Regions from separate parts of the Homo sapiens genome. Here regions 2 and 3 are each linked to region 1. The links come from fine-mapping of genetic effects on gene expression. A gene starts in region 1. Each other region holds a variant in brackets. All regions are shown on one strand. Distances are between the middles of the regions. Region 1 holds the start of ARV1 (ARV1 fatty acid homeostasis modulator). Region 2 has its middle 15 kb from the start of MIR1182. Region 3 overlaps DISC1 (DISC1 scaffold protein).

Evidence for each region.
Region 2: its variant is fine-mapped to the expression of ARV1 in whole blood (INTERVAL, PIP above 0.99).
Region 3: its variant is fine-mapped to the expression of ARV1 in cerebral cortex (GTEx, PIP 0.96).

The regions. Positions count from the first base shown.
Region 1 is chr1:230,977,210-230,981,453 of GRCh38, forward strand. ARV1 (ARV1 fatty acid homeostasis modulator) reads left to right here and starts at 1,885. Exons shown (of 6, transcript NM_022786.3): 1 at 1,885-2,070. The coding sequence starts at 1,897. It overlaps TTC13 (tetratricopeptide repeat domain 13), which reads right to left and starts at 1,652. Exons shown (of 23, transcript NM_024525.5): 1 at 1,351-1,652. The coding sequence starts at 1,621. RefSeq lists silencers at 967-1,256, 1,277-1,536 and an enhancer at 1,817-2,116.
Region 2 is chr1:231,002,601-231,006,844 of GRCh38, forward strand. No RefSeq gene overlaps it. Among named protein-coding and RNA genes, the nearest start is that of MIR1182, 15 kb to the right of the region's middle. The variant AACAC/A (reference allele first, on the strand shown) is at 1,934.
Region 3 is chr1:231,905,088-231,909,331 of GRCh38, forward strand. All of the region lies in intron 9 of DISC1 (DISC1 scaffold protein), which reads left to right. All of the region lies in intron 12 of TSNAX-DISC1 (TSNAX-DISC1 readthrough (NMD candidate)), which reads left to right. Among named protein-coding and RNA genes, the nearest start is that of DISC1-IT1, 19 kb to the right of the region's middle. The variant AATG/A (reference allele first, on the strand shown) is at 2,363.

The DNA of each region.
Region 1 (4,244 bases):
ACCTAAAGCACTTATAACAGCACCTGGCATACAGCAAGCACTCAATATATGTCGGCTACTTCTCATTTCCCTCACAGCACCCTCGTGAGGAAAATAAAACCCCACAATTAGGTGAACAGTGTTTTCCACTTACAGAGGAGGCATTTTACAAAGACAGGTAATTCACTTGCTCAGAGATACAGAAAGTGACAGAGGTAAGTAAATGCCATTCTTTCTCCACCGTGCAAGGCTGGCCGTGTTACTTACGCCGTTACCAGCTAAGGCCTACCGCAAAATAAAAAAGTCACAAACCTCTCAGTGAGTGACACTTCCTCAAGGAAGTCAGACTGTACTAAAAGGAAATCAGATTGTGCTAATCTTGACGTCTCATCTCAACTAAAAAAAAAAGGTATTGTTTTCCCAGGTACACAATGCCGAAGAAAACCACTGCCAAGTCTTAAAAGCAACCATCTCCCAGTGGGTTCGGTAGACCCCGGTCCTTCCCAAAGCAAGCCATAAGGGAACTCACATAGAGAAGGGGGAAAGAGAAAGGGAGGAGATTGATGGGTAAAAAGACCCACGACAGAACTTCAAAACAAAAAAATGTACACACGTATTTTGTCCCAGAGGCATCTGCTATGATTTATTAAACTGAAGCCAATAGCGCCCATTCTTAATGAATGAGCTGGCGTAGCTCCAATACACACACGGCACTGACACACAGGCTCAAGGCCTGCAGGGGCCTTTTTTCCCTCTGGGAGACACCTGACAGATCGCAGGTTGATCTTAAACAACTGGAAGCAAGATGTCAACGAGCAGATAAGATGGGCTTGCTCTTTTTTTCCATTCCAGGGATCCAATTTTTAGGAACTGTTGTATACGAGACATTAACCCGGGAGGTCAGGAAGCCTGATTTCCAGGCCTAAGATGTGCCAGGCGTCTCCCTCCGGGGGCGGGCTCCGCAAGCCGCCGGGCTGGTTGCTCGTCCGCCCGCCCCTCCCTCGCCCCTTCGGCATCCTCGGGAGGCCGGCGGCGGGAACAGGGCTGCCCCGGGCCACCTGCCATCTCCTCCGCCACCCTTCCAACAGTTGCTTCAGACTCAGGAGAGAGGCCGCCCTGGCCCCAGGAGCATGCTGTCAGCTCATTTCTCGACTCGCCGCCCTGCCCAAAGGCGGCTGCAGGAGGGCGCGCGGCGGCGTGGGTGGCAGCGGCGGGAAGCTGCCCGCCAGGACCCCTGGCCGAGCCGGCTCCCGCGGATCGCGCGCCGCAGCCGGAGGCGTGAGGCCCGGGCGACCCGTACCCCGGCCCGGGACCCCAGCCCCGCTGCCCCGCCGCCCCGGCCGACTCGGACGCCCGCCGCCGCCCACTCACCGCCGCACTCGGCAGAGTACTGGTCCCCCCAGTCCCCGGACTGCGGGCTGCAGCCGCCGCCGCCCGCCGGGGCCTCCTGCTGCTGCCGGTGCTGCAGCTCCTGCTTGAGCAGGGAGAGCGGCGAGTAGTGCTCGGTGGCCAGGGCGCCTGGCCGCAGCCCGGCGGACAGGACCCCCAGCAGCAGCAGCAGCAGGACACGCCGGGCGGCGCCCGCGGCGGCCACAGCGCCGCCCCAGAAGCAGCAGCAGCAGCAGCAGCCGGCAGGTGCCATCTTCCCTCAAGGCGCATGCGCGACAGCCCTTGCCCGGCTCTCAGGCCTCCCCGCCTCTAACCTACGGCGGGCAGGTGGACCGTGGCAAGGGGGCGGGACAAGGGGAGAAGCATTGTGTGCTGGGAATGGTAGTCCCAGCTCGGCCAGCCCGGGGCCGCCTTGCCGGTGCCGGGACTACGAATCCCAATAAGCCCGCGCGGCGCAAGTCTTCCGGTCTGGCGTCTGACGTCTTACCCTCCACAGAATCGGAAGTTCTGGACTGCAGTTGAGTGGAAATGGGCAACGGCGGGCGGAGCGGCCTGCAGCAGGGGAAGGGGAACGTGGATGGGGTGGCAGCGACTCCTACTGCTGCCTCGGCCTCCTGCCAGTACAGGTGCATCGAATGCAACCAGGAGGCCAAAGAGTTGTACCGAGACTATAACCACGGTGTGCTGAAGATAACCATCTGTGTGAGTTGTCAGGTGTGGGGTGCCCTTGAGAAGAAAATGGCGCGGCGGGATTTGGGGACCGCGAGGAGCAGGGTCCTCTGATACAGTCTTTAGTTCGGTAGTTGACATTCCCGCCCGGGATCTTTGCATGAATATCTGTACTGATAGAGAACTCAGCTACCCGACAGCGCTTTTCTCATACTGGGGCATATTTGGGTGATATGACCTAAGCCGGCGAACGGACCGGACCGACAGACAGAGGTAGATGTGGGCATTTTGCAGAGAAATTTAAAGATCAATTAGGTTGACATTTTGGTTCATGCCAAAGCTACTTCCTTCTAGCTCTTCTCCCTTTGACAGAGAGATGGTACCATCCTTACCCTCCACAACCCATGTTGAATTCACCTACGATGCTTTTTAAAGGTTTCATCAATTGTCGTTATTGGATGTCTACGGTGTACAAAGCACTATGCTAGACGTTGGTGGTACAAAACCCAAAAGTGAGGAAGTAAAAATTCTCATTTCAAGGTGTTCGTAGAATACCTTGAACTTTCTGATGATTTTCCATCTCAGAGTTAAGGCCCGAATCCCTGAACTGGCTTATAAGGCCCTATGGAGTCTCCTGCTACTCTTTCCCTTCTTTATTTTACGGCAGAGAGAATAATCTTATGTTTAAAGAGTCTACAAAGTTGGAGGTTCTTTGGGGGTATTAATTAGCAAAGAACCTGTCACAGAATAGACAGTACATTTTTGTCCCATTTCAGATCTTGTGATTTTCTAATCTCTTTAGTAAATTATGGTCTGTAGTAATATACAAGAGAATTGACAAACTGAGTGTATACCTGTATAATCTGCCAACCACATAACGTTCTGATGCATACAACCTCAATTTCCTGTTCCTCTCTCAAGTACTTTCCCTCTTTTGTCAAAATGTCAACCCTTGTTAAATCCAACATATTGCCTGGTCTTGTCCCTGTACCCATGCAGCAGTACGTTGCTGGGGAAAAACAAATTTGTGACGATTAACCTCATATAGGCCTTTCATGATTTCTGGCAATCTTATTTCGGTTTTTTTTTTCTTTCTTTCTTTCTTTTTGAGATAGAGTTTCCCTCTGTCACCCAGGCTGGAGTGCAGTGGGGCACTCTCAGCTCACTAAAACCTCTGCCTCCCAAGTTCAAGCAATTCTCCTGCCTCAGCCTCCCAAGTAGCTGGGATTACAGGCCTGCACCACCACGCCGGGCTAATTTTTGTATTTTTAGTAGAGACCAGGTTTCACCATGTTGACCAGGCTGGTCTTGAACTGACCTCAAATGATCCACCCACCTCGGCCTCCCAAAGTGCTGGGGTTACAGGCATGAGCCACTGCGAAAACAGAAGAGAACTTCCACCAGGTTTGCAACAACATAAACCCAATACTAGCATTTGTTATTTCTTTACTGTACTGTCTTCTTCTGCCTTCTGCTGGATCATTCCCACCAGCATGCATACTGTTACTTCTTCCATCAAAAAAAAAAAAAAAACCAACACCACCAACAAAATACACTTGCTGCCACTTCCCCCTTTAGCTTCTGCTCTTTTTCTTCTTAATTAGAAAGCAGACCTTCTAAGATATGTTTGTACTGTCTATTTCCTTTCCTAGTTTCTCTTGAACCTGCTTTAGTCACATTCCCACCCGCATTTCATTAGAAACTGTTCTTGTTAAGATCACCACTTCCACTTTGCTAAATCCAGTAGTCGATTCTCAGTTAATGATCAGCAGCATTTTACCTCATTACTTCCTCCTCCTTGAAATGCTGTGTGCGCTTCCCAGGATTCAGTGCTCTTCTTATTGTCTTCTTACTTCACTGGCTGTTACCCCTCAATCTCCTTTCTGCTTTTGCTTCACCTCCCTTACCTCTTAATCATGGTGTATTCCAACGCATAGTCATCGTGCCTCTTTCTGTCTGCATGCTTTCCCTTGAAGAGCTCATTCTGTCTCATGGCTTTAAATACCGTCAAAATTTTGACAATTTCCAAATTTATATTTCTACCCTGAACCTCTTCCCTGAACTCCAGACTTAAATGTCCAACTACCTACTTGACTTCTCCACTTGGATTTCAATAGACAGCTCAAATATACCCATCACAGTTAATGGCAACTTTACCATTTTAACTCCTAAGACCAAGAAACCTTGGTGTCATCCCTATTTCTACT
Region 2 (4,244 bases), 25 kb after region 1:
GCCTCACCAACTACATGGGAGCTGGGGAGGCCTCTCACTACCAGCTATCTCCCACTTCCCTGGTGAACTAGATGACACAGCAGAGGCAGCCATAATCCCTTCTGGAACGTAACCCCATTGGCCTGAGAACCACCCCCTCATCCTGCACAATGGCAGTGGCAAGCCCTACCCAAGGAGAGTCTGAGCCTAGACCCACCTATCCCTGCCCAATGCCACCACGGTATTTCTCTACCCACCCTGATAACTGATTACAAAAGACATAAATTCTTGGGAGCTTTATGGCCTCACCCATCATCCAAGAAGCCTGAATACTTATCCTGGCCAACTTAAGACAAGCTTATAGCCCCCTTCTACTACCACAGCTGGTGTTCTCTTGAAACCACCACCTCCTGGCTAGAGGCCAACCAACTCAGGCCATTATAGCAACTCATTACAGAATAACCCTGTTCCCAGGAAGGAGAAAACAGCTAATTCCACTGTCTGCAACATCCTGGCTAACCAGAGGTCCTGAGTCTGTCCACGTGACAACTTCACTGCTGGCATAACCAGCATTCAAGAAAGCCAGCACACTAAGCATATCTACAACCAAGGACTCTCACAGTCTATTTCACTCCCTGCCTCCTCCACCAGAGCAGGTGCTGGTATCCATGGTTTGGAGACCTGAAGATGAATCACATCATGAGACTCTTGCAGACATTCTCCAGCATCAGCCTAGAGCCTGGTGGACCCGCTGAGTGGATAGGCCCAGAAGAACAATAACAATCACTGCAGTCCAGCTCTCAGGAAGCTCCGTCCCACGGGAAAGTGGGAGTGTCCCACATCAAGGGATGACCCCATGGCACAAAAGAATCTGAACAGCAGGCCTTGAGTTCTAGATCTTTCCACCAAAATAGTCTACCCAAATGAGAAGAAACCAGAAAAGTAATTCTGGTAATATGACAAAACAGGGTTCTATAACACTCCCAAAAGATCACACTAGCTCCCTAGCAATGGATCCAAACCAAGACGAAATCTCTGAATTGCCAGAAAAAGAATTCAGAAGGTTGATTATTAAGCTACTCAAGGATATACCAGAGAAACTTGAAAACCAACTTAAAGAAATCTAAAAAACAATACAAGATATGGATGAAAAATTCTCCAGAGAAATAAATGTCATAAGGAAAAAACAATCACAATTTCTGGAAATGAAAGACACTTAGAGAAATACAAAATGCACCGGAAAGTTTCAACAATAGAACAAGTAGAAGAAAGAAATAAAGAGCTCAAAGACAGGGCTTTCAAATTAACTCAATCTGACAGAGACAAAGAAAAAATATTTTTTAAAAAATGAACAAGCCTCCAAGAAATGCGAGATTATGATAAATGGCCAAACCTAAGAATAATTGGTGTTCTTGAGAAAGAAGAGAAATCTAAAAGTCTGGAAAACTTATTTGAGGAAATAATTGAGAAAAACTTCCCTGGTGTTGCTAGAGATCTAGATATCCAAATAAAAGAAACTCAAAGAACACCTGGAAAATGCATCACAAAAAAGATCATCACCTAGGCACACAGTCATCAGGTTATCTAAAGTCAAGATGAAAGAAGAATCTTAAGAGCAGTGAGACAAAAGGATCAGGTAACCTATAAAGGAAAACCTATCAGATTAACAGTGATTTCTCAGCAGAAACCTTAAAAGCCAGAAGGGATTAGGGTCCTATATTTTAGCCCCCTGAAACAAAATGATTGTCAGCCAAGAATTTTGTATCCAGAAAAACTAAGCTTCATAAATGAAGACGAGAAAAAATCTTTTTCAGACAAACAAATGCTGAGAGAATTCACCAGTGCCAAACCAGCACTACAACAAATGCTAAAAGGAGTTCTAAATCTTGAAACAAAACCTTGAAATACACCAAAATAGAACCTTCTTAAAACATAAATCTCACAGGGCCTACAA[AACAC/A]ACACACACACACACACACACACACAAACACACACGCAATGGGGGAAAAAGGTATTTAGGCAACAACTAGCATAATGAATAGAAAAGTGCCTCACATCTTAATACTAATATTGAATGTAAATGGCCTAAATGCTACACTTAAAAGATACAGAATGGCAGAATGGATAAAAATCCACCAACCAAGTATCTGCTGTCTTCAAGAGACCCACCTAACACATAAAGACTCATAAACTTAAGGCAAAGGGGTGGAAAAATACATTCCATCCAACTGGAAACCAAAAGCAAGCATGAGTAGCTATTCTTACATCAGACAAAAGAGACTTTAAAACAACAAAAAAAGAGAGAAAGTGGGCATTGTATAATAATAAAAGGATCAGTCCAACAGGAAAATATCACAATCCTAAATATATATGCACTTAACATTGGAGCTCCCAAATTCATAAAACAATTACTACTAGACTTAAGAAATGAGATGGCAACACAATAATAGTAGGGGAATTCAATACTCCACTGACAGACAGCACTAAACAGGTCATCAAGACAGAAAGTCAACAAAGAAACAATGGACTTAAACTATCCCCTAGAACAAATGGACATAGCAGATATTTACAGAACATTCTACCCAGCAACTGCAGAATATACATTCTTTTCCTCAGCACATGGAACACTGTCCAAGATAGACCATGATAGGTGACAAAACAAGTCTCAATACATTTAAGAAAATCAAAATTATATCTAATATCCTCTCAGATCACAGTGGAATAAAACTGGAAATTAACTCCAAAAGGAACCCTCGAAACTACACAAATACATGGAAATTAAATAACCTGCTCTTAATGATCTTGAGGTCAACAACAAAATCAAGATGGAAATTTAAAAAGTTATTTGATCTGAACAATAATAGTGACATAAACTATTAAAACCTCTGGGATATAGCAAAAGCAATGCTAAGAGGAAAGTTCATAGCATTAAATGTCTACATCGAAAAGTCTGAAAGAGCACAAATAGACAATCTAAGGTCACACCTCAAGGAACTAGAGAAACAAGAACAAACCAAACCCAAACTTAGCAGAAGAAAAGAAATAACAAATATCAGAGCAGAACTAAATGAAATTTAAACAAAAATATACAAAAGATAAATGAAACAAAAAAGCTGGTCTTTGAAAAGATAAACAAAATTAATAGATTATTAGTGAGATTAACCAAGAAGAGAGAAGATCCAAATAAGGTCAATTAGAAACAAAACAGGAGATATTACAACTTATCATACAGAAATACAAAAGAACGTCCATGGTTACTATGAACACCTTTACATGCACAAACTAGAAAACCTTGAGGAGATGGATAAATTTCTAGAAATATACAACCCTTCTAGATTAAATCAGGAAGAAATAGAATCTCTGAACAGATCAATTAAAAGTAGCGACATTGAAACAGAAATAAATCCCAACAAAAAAAGTCCAGAGCCAGATGGATTCACAGCTGAATTCTATCAGACATTCAAAGAAGAACTGGTACTAATCTTACTGAAATGATTCCAAAAGATAGAGAAAGAAGGAATCCTCCCTAAATCATTCTATGAAACCAGTATCACCCTAATACCAAAACCAGGAAAGGACAAACAAAAAAAAAAGAAAACTACAGATCAATGTCCTTAATGAACATAGATGCAAAAATCCTCAACAAAATACTAGCTAACCAAATCCAACAGCATATCAGAAAGATAATCCACCATGGTCAAGTGGGTTTCAGGGATGCAGGGATGGTTTAACGTATGCAAGTCAATAAATAAATGTAATACATCACATAATCAGAATTAAAAACAAAAATCATATGATCATCTCAATAGACCCAGAAAAAGCATTTGACAAAATCCAGCATCCATTTATGATTAAAACCCTCAGCAAAGCTGACATAGAAGGGACATACCTCGGGGTAATAAAAGCCATCCATAACAAACCCACAGCCAACATTATACTGAACAGAGAAAAGTTGAAAGCATTCCCCCTGAGAACTGAAACAAGACAAGGATGCCCATTTTCACCACTTTTTTACAACATAGTACTGGAAGTCCTAGCCAGAGCAATCGGACAAGAGAAAAAAATAAAGAGCATCCAAATCAGTAAAGAGGAAGTTAAACTGTCTGCCTATCAACGATATGATCATATACCCAGAAAACCCTAAAGACTCATCCAAAAAGCTCCTAAATTCAATAAATGAATTCAGTGAAGTTTCAGGCTACAAAATCAATGTACACAAGTCAGTAGCACTGCTATATATGAACAACAACTAAGCTGAGAATCAAAT
Region 3 (4,244 bases), 930 kb after region 1:
AGCCTGACAGAGAGCACCTTAATCAAATTATCAACGTTATCATCAGCAATGGGACAAGTCGAAGTCCTTAGCCACCACAGTAAGCTACAAGAGCACCATGACATCAGATCTGGGATTTCCCAACAAAAATGCAAACCTGAGTTTGATCATGAGTAAATACCAGGGAAACTCAGATGGAGGTGCATTCCACAAAATAACTGGCCTATGGTCTTCAGAAGTGCCAAGGTCAAGACAGTCAAGGAATGGCCAGGCTGTACGCAGTGGCTCATGCCTATTATCCTAGCACTTTGGGAGGCCATGGTGGGAGGATTGCTTGAGCCTGAGAGTTCGAAACCAGCCTGGGCAAGATAGTGAGACCCCCGTCTCCACAAATTTTTTTTTTTAATTAGCCTGGCGTGGTGATGCACACCTGTAGTTCCTGCTGCTTGGGAGGCTGAGGTGGGAGGATTGCTTGAGCCTGGGATGATGAAGTTGCAGTGAGCCATGATTGTGTCACTGCATTCCAGCCTGAGCAACAGAGCCAGATCCTGTCTTAATTTAAAAAATAATAAAGGAATGACTAAAGAACTGTTCCCAACTCAAAGCGACTAAGAGACATGGGAACTGAGTGCAATGTGTGATTCTGAGGGGCATGGGGGACCCTTTTGTTGTTATAAAAGGCATTATCAGGACATTTGGCAACATTTCAATGAAGCCTGAGGATTCGATGGTAGTAGTCTATCATTATTGATTTCCTGATTTTGATGGTTATATTGTGGTTATTTAGGAAAATACCCTCGTTTTTAGGAAATATCCACTAAGATATTCAAGGGTGGAGGAACAGCGGGTCAACAACTCTCAAATGGTCCAGGAAATAGAAAGTTCTTTGTACTATATTTGTAACTTCTCTGTTGCTCTGTGATTGTTTAAAATGAATTCGCTGAGGTCATGGCTTTTTTTTTTTTTTTTTTTTTGAGATGGAGTCTCACTCTGTTGCCCAGGCTGGAGTGTAATGGCACGATCTCAGCTCACCGCAACCTCTGCCTCCCAGGTTCAAGTGATTCTCCTGCCTCAGCCTCCCAAGCAGCTGGGACCACAGACATGCGTTACCACGCCGGGCTAATTTTGTATTTTTAGTAGAGATGGGGTCTCTCCATGTTGGTCAGGCTAGTCTTGAACTCCTGACCTCAGGTGATCTGCCTGCCTTGACCTCCCAAAGTGCTGGGATTACAGGCATGAGTCACCATGCCCGGTCAAGGGCATGGATTTTGATCCATGAATCAGTGAGAGAGACGTAAGTACAATGCCTGATATTTTTGCCTGTTCTTGAGGATAGCATCCCTACTATTACTGAATTCACTCACATGTGTGAGTTTGGGGATCTTAAAATATCCCAGGGGGTGCTTTATGCACGAGGGATATGGATTAAGTCCAGGGTGAATATAGGTGTTTCCCAGTGATAAGGCAGCTGTGTGTGAAAGCAAGGACAAAAACAAAACTAAACTAAACTAAAAAGAAAAGTCAGGCCAGTGTGCTAGATATTTACAGCTGGGTGATTGTGATGGCACTGTCCTTCCTAAAGCTTTGTAACAGATTAAGTAGATTCTCTAAAGCCGTTCAGGTTAGAGGGTGCCTTGCCCTTATTGCTCCACCGTGCTTTTTGGCAGACATTGTGACCATGTTTAGTAATTATATTTGGCTCCCTGAAGGTAAAACAGGAGCTGCGTACGTATTAGGGGAGAAAAAAGGAAGCACAAGAAGAAAGGAAAAAAAAAATTAAGGGGCTTATGTTTTATATCCTCCCAGTCAATCCCATGAGTGAATAACTACATTACAAATTTTGTCTCGATGTGGTTTTTAAGCCTAAAGAATCTTTCTTTTTCTTTCTTTGCTTTCTTTCTTTCTCTTTCTTTTCTTTCTTTTCTTTCTTTCTTTCTCTCTCTCTTTCTTTTTCTTCTCTCTCTCTCTTTCTTTCCCTCCCTCCTCCCTCCCTTCCTTCCTTCCCTCCCTCCCTTCCTTCCTTCCCTCCCTCCTTCCTTCTCTCCTTCCTTCCTTCCTTCCTTCCTCTTTCTTTCTTTCTTTCTTTCTTTCTTTCTTTCTTTCTCTTTCTTTTATTATACTTTAAGTTCTAGGGTACATGTGCACAACGTGCAGGTTTGTTACATATGTATACATGTGCCATGTTGGTGTGCTGCACCCATTAACTCATCATTTACATTAGATATATCTCCTAATGCTATCCCTCCCCACTCCCCCCACCCCACAACAGGCCCCAGTGTGTGATGTTCCCCATCCTGTGTCCAAGTGTTCTCATTGTTCAATTCCCACCTACGAGTGAGAACATGCAGTGTTTGGTTTTCTGTCCTTGTGATAGTTTGCTGAG[AATG/A]ATGGTTTCCAGCTTCATCCATTTCCCTACAAAGGACATGTGGGCTCCTGAACTTATCCTTTTTTATGGCTGCATAGTATTCCATAGTGTATATGTGCCACATTTGCTTAATCCAGTCTATCATTGATGGATATTTGGGTTGGTTCCAAGTCTGCTATTGTGAATAGTGCCACAATAAACATACGTGTGCATGTGTCTTTATAGTAGCATGATTTATAATCCTTTGGGTATATACCCAGTAATGGGATGGCTGGGTCAAATGGTATTTCTAGTTCTAGATCCTTGAGGAATCGCTACACTGTCTTCCACAATGCTTGAACTAGTTTACAGTCCCACCAACAGTGTAAAAGTGTTCCTATTTCTCCACATCCTCTCCAGTACCTGTTGTTTCCTGACTTTTTAATGATCGCCATTCTAACTGGTATGAGATGGTATCTCATTGCGGTTTTGATTTGCATTTCTCTGATGGTCAGTGATGATGAACATTTTTTCATGTGTCTGTTGGCTGCATAAATGTCTTCTTTTGAGAAGTGTCTGTTCATATCCTTTGCTCACTTTTTGATGGGGTTGTTTGACTTTTTCTTGTAAATTTGTTTAAGTTCTTTGTAGATTCTGGATATTAGCCTTTTGTCAGATGGGTAGATTTTTAAACTTTTCTCCCATTCTGTACGTTGCCTGTTCACTCTGATGGTAGTTTCTTTTGCTGTGTAGAAGCTCTTTAGTTTAATTAGATCCCATTTGTCAACTTTGGCTTTTGTTGCCGTTGCTTTTGGTGTTTTAGTCATGAAGTCCTTGCCCATGCCTGTGTCCTGAATGGTATTGCCTAGGTTTTCTTCTAGGGTTTTTATGGTTTTAGGTCTAACATTTAAGTCTTTAATTCATCTTGAATTAATTTTTGTATAAGGTGTAAGGAAAGGATCCAGTTTCAGCTTTCTACATATGGCTAGCCAGTTTTTCCAGCACCATTTATTAAATAGGGAATCGTTTCCCCATTTCTTGTTTTTGTCAGGTTTGTCAAAGATCAGATGGTTGTAGATGTGTGGTATTATTTCTGAGGGCTCTGTTCTGTTCCATTGGTCTATATCTCTGTTTTGATATCAGTACCATGCTGTTACTGTAGCCTTGTAGTATCATTTGAAGTCAAGTAGTGTGTTGCCTCCAGCTTTGTTCTTTTGGCTTAGGATTGTCTTGGCAATGTGGGCTCCTTTTTGGTTCCATATGCACTTTAAAGTAGTTTTTTCCAGTTCTGTGAAGAAAGTCATTGGTAGCTTGATGCGGATGGCATTGAATCTATAAATTACCTTGGGCAGTATGGCCATTTTCGCGATATTGATTCTTCCTATCCATGAGCATGGAATGTTCTTCCATTTGTTTGTGTCCTCTTTTATTTTGTTGAGCAGTGATTTGTAGTTCTCCTTGAAGAGGTCCTTCACATCCCTTGTAAGTTGTATTCCTAGGTATTTTATTCTCTTTGTAGCAATTGTGAATGGGAGTTCACTCATGATCTGGCTCTCTGTTTGTCTGTTATTGGTGTATGGGAATGCTTGTGATTTTTGCACATTCATTTTGTATCCTAAGACTTTGGTTAAGTTGCTTATCAGCTTAAGCAGATTTTGGGCTGAGATGATGGGGTTTTCTAAATATAAAATCATGTGATCTGTAAAAAGGGACAATTTGACTTCCTCTTTTCCTAGTTGAATACCCTATATTTCTTTCTCCTGCCTGATTGCCCTGGCCAGAAATTCCAACACTATGCTGAATAGGAGTGGTGAGAGAGGGCATCCCTGCCTTGTGCCAGTTTTCAAAGGGAATGCTTCCAGTTTTTGCCCATTCAGTATGATATTGGCTGTGGGTTTGTCATAAATAGCTCTCATTATTT